Regions from separate parts of the Homo sapiens genome. Here region 2 is linked to region 1. The links come from fine-mapping of genetic effects on gene expression. A gene starts in region 1. The other region holds a variant in brackets. All regions are shown on one strand. Distances are between the middles of the regions.

The links. PIP is the estimated chance that this variant, and not a neighbour inherited with it, causes the effect. A credible set is the group of variants that fine-mapping cannot tell apart.
Region 2: its variant is the best candidate, but not a certain one, in a credible set for the expression of LINC01597 in tibial nerve (GTEx, PIP 0.64).

The regions. Positions count from the first base shown.
Region 1 is chr20:30,284,749-30,287,664 of GRCh38, forward strand. It overlaps LINC01597 (long intergenic non-protein coding RNA 1597), which reads right to left and starts at 1,789. Exons shown (of 2, transcript NR_145432.2): 1 at 1,692-1,789. LOC107985433 (putative uncharacterized protein LOC401522) reads right to left here. Exons shown (of 3, transcript NR_171672.1): 3 at 2,280-2,724.
Region 2 is chr20:29,725,694-29,728,609 of GRCh38, forward strand. No RefSeq gene overlaps it. Among named protein-coding and RNA genes, the nearest start is that of FAM242B, 180 kb to the left of the region's middle. The variant AT/A (reference allele first, on the strand shown) is at 1,632.

The DNA of each region.
Region 1 (2,916 bases):
CCCTGGCCTATCCCACAGCAGTTGGTGTTAACGTGTGTCACCGGAGGCATACGGGGCGACGGCGAAACAAAGGGTGTTGTCCAGGCGTGTGCCGGTGGAAGGGGAAAACAGGTGACATTTCCATCAATGCCAAGGAAAATCGAAAACACCTGGGACCCGAGGGGTGTGGGGGGGGCCTGTGACTGACCCAAGCCACGTTTTCGAATGCCTACCGGAGGAGCAAAGAGGTTTCTGCAAAATTCGCCCCAACCCCAACCCTCCAAGGCCCTGGCAGCCCTGACGCAACTTCGGCTGCACAGAGCCCCAGCCCCAGCCCCCAGCCCTAGACCAGTCCCTTTGTTTCCCTTACATTCGTTTCGGCCAGAAGATCAAGGGGTTCAGTCCACCCAGGAGCAGAGGAGAGGATGTCCCTCAAGAATGAGACAGGAAGTGCAGAGGAAATGCGACACCACCTGTCGTGGAAGACAAGGCCAGTCACGGTCGCCTAGCGCTCATTCTAGGTAATCCACCCACCCATGAGGGGAAACGTGGAGAAGACACCTGCCTGAGACACCTATGGAAGCCAAGTGTTCCCGGGCCATGAGACCTGCCCAATCAAGCAGAAACACATTTGGAGAGACAAACAATCACGACACGGGTCTCCAGGAAGTGTCTCCCTGACGGAGTGGGAAGTCATCTTAGTTGAAGGCATTTGGCCAGAGCGAGAGGCATCCAGGTCCCTGAGAAACAGGGGAGGCAGAGCAAGAGGGAGGACAGAGCAGAGGCCGGAGCCCAGGCAGGATACAGCACCTTGCCACCGTCACAGGCATAAGGGGTGGGGTTCCTAAAGGGTGGCTTGTGCAGGGAGGCCAGCGTTCCAGGGACAGGGATTGTTGCCATCTCTCATTCCTGGCTTCCTCTTGCTGACTGTATCGTGGTGTGGCTTCATTTCTCAGAGAAGAGCCGCGAAAAGACTCAAACATCTTCTCTGACGTGGGTCCGCTGATCTCCTGTGGGACAAAGAGCTCCTGTGGGGCTCTTGTCCTCATCTGCAGTGTGTTCCTCTTGATGCTAGAAAAGAGGACGCTCAGGATGGGGACGAGACAGCAATTGCTCCAAGACCGACGCATCTTCTCACGTGGGCCAGGCTTTCACGCAGCCAAAGCAGATCCGCGGGGGCGAAAACGATTGACAACCGGCCTCATGACCCAGGCAGAGACACAGAAAGAGGTTCAACAAAGACAGGCCGCCATGCAAGAGACAGCTCTGTGGTTCACAGGGCATATTCAGCCAAAGACACACAAGCACACGGGCACACACACACAAACCCACAGAGAGTGGGAAAGAAACACACAGAGACTGAGAGACAGAGAGAGAAGGGAGAATGGGAGACACACACACACACAAACAAAGGGTCATACAGCAGAGGCATTGAAACACACACCACCAGGCAACCCCTGAGGCTGCGGGGTTCTGCTGTCAACCAGAACGACCCTCGGGTGAAAGAGCAGCCCAGGGGCACGCAGGCCAACCGGTCCTCGAGATCACGGACGGCGGCACGACATTTGGGGAGACTCACTCCAACCAACACCGTCCGGGCAGGCCTGAGGCTGGGAGCCCCTGCTGCTTCCCCCGTCTCCGCCTGGGGGAGCCCACCACCTACCCACCCTCCATTCACCTCCCCTCCTTAAGGCTCACTAAGCTCTATTTACCTTTTGTAACTCCATCCCTCCGTAAGTACACAACTCTCCTAGCTGGTTTCCTAGAGGGCAGATACAGTGTTTCCAGTTGGCCCTCTGCAGATATCTATGAACAAGTCTCTCCCAGCCCCTACATATAAATATGTGTGTTCTAGACAGACGGGCCTAAGTCCCAATGTAAACACATCACAAGATAATTACACCTTATATGCATACAGATCTCTCTATAGAGTTATATTTGAAAGTGTCTATAACTCTAGAGAGAGATTGCAGCATGCACATATAGGACTGTAATTACTTATATGTATTTTTATAACTATGTAGTTATAAATAGATATGCCTATATATAGTGATAATAATATAGCAATATCTCCATAGCCATATATGGCTCTAAATGAATGCTCTAACTACTCTATTTCACAATCAATAAGTATATATCTTCTGATACATAATTCTAACAATATACGTTTTTATCTATATAGCTGTTCAGAGATATAAATCTGTCAGGATATCAAATGTACATAAAGCTGGATGGCTGTAAGAGAGTCGTATATTTTCCCATATATAAATCTGCTCCTATAACTACTGTATATGCACAAATACAATGGAAATAGTTATATTTCCCTCAAACATAAATCTGTAAATACAACCACAGCACATTTAGGTACGGTTAGACATAGAGCAATATTTCCTAGATATCAGTCTGTCAATAGAGCCACAGTGTCTCCAAACAGAGAGTTATAGAGGGAGTTATAAATAAACTCTCCAGATGTGAACGGATCAGTAGAACTAGATGTAAACATGACTCCAAGCCGTTCTTTCTTCTTCTTCTTCTTTGTAAGATATTCCTGAAGCAAGCCCAGTCATATAACAGGGTGCAAAGGTGTCTGGGTACTGGTATTTTTCCCCCCAAGGAGGGTCGGAAGTCGCTGGACTTTGGGAAACTGAGCAGGAGTGGGTAGGGGACAGTGCCCGCTCCCAACGCAATCCAGAAGCCCCTTCCGTCTGTCTCCTGGTGGCTGAGAGCTCGGGCAAGTGGAGAGGCCTAAGGGAGAAAAATGAAAAAGCAGAGTCTGGCTTGAGTCGTTTGGCCCTTCTGCCTAAAACCCTCTCAACAGGGAAGCCCCGACCAGGCGTCGGAGCGGAGAGAGCCCACGAGGCACAGAGGTTGGGAGAAAGGGTCTGCAGGCCGGGCTTCGGAGGCCTAGCGGAGTCGCCAGCCGGTGCCTGACCGCCC
Region 2 (2,916 bases), 560 kb before region 1:
TCCATGCTCATGGGTAGGAAGAATCAATATTGTGAAAATGGCCATACTGCCCAAGGTAATTTACAGATTCAATGCCATCCCCATCAAGGTATCAATCACTTTCTTCACAGAATTGGAAAAAACTACTTTAAAGTTTATATGGAACCAAAAAAGAGCCCACATCGCCAAGTCAATCCTAAGCCAAAAGAACAAAGCTGGAGGCATCACACTACCTGACTTCAAACTATACTACAAGGCAACAGTAACCAAAATAACATGATACTGGTCCCAAAACAGAGATATAGATAAATGGAACGGAACAGAGCCCTCAGAAATAATGCCACATATCTACAACTATCTGATCTTTGACAAACCTGAGAAAAACAAGCAATGGGGAAAGGATTCCCTATTTAATAAATGGTGCTGGGAAAACTGGCTAGCCATATGTAGAAAGCTGAAACTAGATCCCTTCCTTACACCTTATACAAAAATCAATTCAAGATGGATTAAAGACTTAAATGTTACACCTAAAACCACAAAAACCCTAGAAGAAAACCCAGGCATTACCATTCAGGACATAGGCATGGGCAAGGACTTCATGTCTAAAACACCAAAAGCAATGGCAACAAAAGACAAAATTGACAAATGGGATCTAATTCAACTAGAGTTTCTGCACAGCAAAAGAAACTACCATCAGAGTGAACAGGCAACCTACAAAATGGGAGAAAATTTTTGCAGCCTACTCATCTGACAAAGGGCTAATATCCAGAATCTACAATGAACTCAAACAAATTTACAAGAAAAAAACAAACAACCCCATCAAAAAGTGGGCAAAGGACATGAACAGACACTTCTCAAAAGAAGACATTTATGCAGCCAAAAAACACATGAAAAAATGCTCACCATCACTGGCCATCAGAGAAATGCAAATCAAAACCACAATGAGATACCATCTCACACCAGTTAGAATGGCAATCATTAAAAAGTCAGGAAACAACAGGTGCTGGAGAAGATGTGGAGAAATAGGAACACTTTTACACTGTTGTTGGGACTGTAAACTAGTTCAACCATTGTGGAAGTCAGTGTGGTGATTCCTCAGGGATCTAAAACTAGAAACACCATTTGACCCAGCCATCCCATTACTGGGTATATACCCAAAGGACTATAAATCGTGCTGCTATAAAGACACATGCACATGTATGTTTATTGCAGCATTATTCACAATAGCAAAGACTTGGAACCAACCCAAATGTCCAACAATGATAGACTGGATTAAGAAAATGTGGCACATATACACCATGGAATACTATGCAGCCATAAAAAATGATGAGTGCATGTCCTTTGTAGGGACACGGATGAAATTGGAAATCATCATTCTCAGTAAACTATTGCAAGAACAAAAAACTAAACACCACATATTCTCACTCATAGGTGGAATTGAACAATGAGAACACATGGACAACAGGAAGGGGAACATCACACTCTGGGGCTGTTGTGGGGTGGGGGGAGGGGGAGGGATAGCATTGGGAGATATACCTAATGCTAGATGACGAGTTAGTGGGTGCAGCGCACCAGCATGGCACATGTATACATATGTAAGTAACCTGCACATTGTGCACTTGTACCCTAAAACTTAAAGTATAATAATAATA[AT/A]AAAAAAAGAATGGTTTAACTCTGGGAGAAGAATGCACACATGAAAAAGAAGTTTCTCAGAATGCCTCTGTCTAGTTTTTATGTTAAGATATTTGTTTTTCACCTTAGGCCTCAAACTGCCCAGAAATATCCCTTTGCAGATTGTACAAAAAGATGGTTTCCAAACTGCTCAATGAAAACAAGGGTTCAACACTGTGACATGAATATGCACATCACAAAGAAGTTTTTCAGAAAGCTTCTGTTTAGTTTTTAAGTGAAGATATTTCCTTTTTCACCATAGGCCTCAAAGTGCTCCAAATATCCTTTTGCAGAACCTAAAAAAAAAAGAGTTTCCAAACTGTTCAATTAAAAGAAATCTGTGAGAAGAAAGCACACATCACAAAGAAGTTTCTCATAATGCTTCTGTCTACTTTTTTTGTGAAGATATTTCCTATATCACCATAGGCCTCAAAGGTCTCAAAAATATCCCTTTGCAGACTGTACAAAAACACAGTTTTCAAACTGCTCCATGAAAAGAAAGTTTCAGATCTGTGAGATGAATGCACACATAATAAATTACTTTCTCATAATGCTTTGATCTAGTTTTTATGTGAAGATATTTCTTTTTCACCATAGACATCAAACCATTCAGAAGTATCCCTTTGTAGATTGTACAAAAAGACGGTTTCCAAACTGCTCAATCAAAAGAAAGGTTCAAACATGTGAGTTGAGTGCACAGATAACAAAGAAGTTTCTCAGAAATCTTCTGTCTTGTTTTTATGTGAAGATATTTCATTTCTCAACATAGGCCTCAAAGCAATCCAAATAGCCATTTGCAGATTCTACAAAAAGACTGTTTCCCAACTGATCAATCAAAACAAATTTTTAGCTCTCTGAGATGAAAGCACACATCACAAAAAAGTTACTCAGATAGCTTCTCTCTAGTTTGTATGTGAAGATATTTCCTATTTCACCTGATGCCATAAAGGGCTCACACATACCCCTTTGAAGGTTCTACAAAAAGACTGTTTCCAAACTGCTTAATCAAAAGAAAGGTTCAACTCTGTGAGATGAATGGACACGTCACAAGGAAATTCTCAGACTGACTCTGTCTAGTTTTTACGTGAAGATATTTCTCTTTCACCATAGGCCACAAATGGATCAGAATTATCCCTTTGCAGATTGTACAATAAGCCTCTTTCCAACCTTTTCAATCAAAAGAAAGGTTCAACTCTGTGAGATGAATCCACACATCACAAGGAAGTTTCTCAGAAAGCTTCTGTTTAGTTTTTATGTGAAGATATT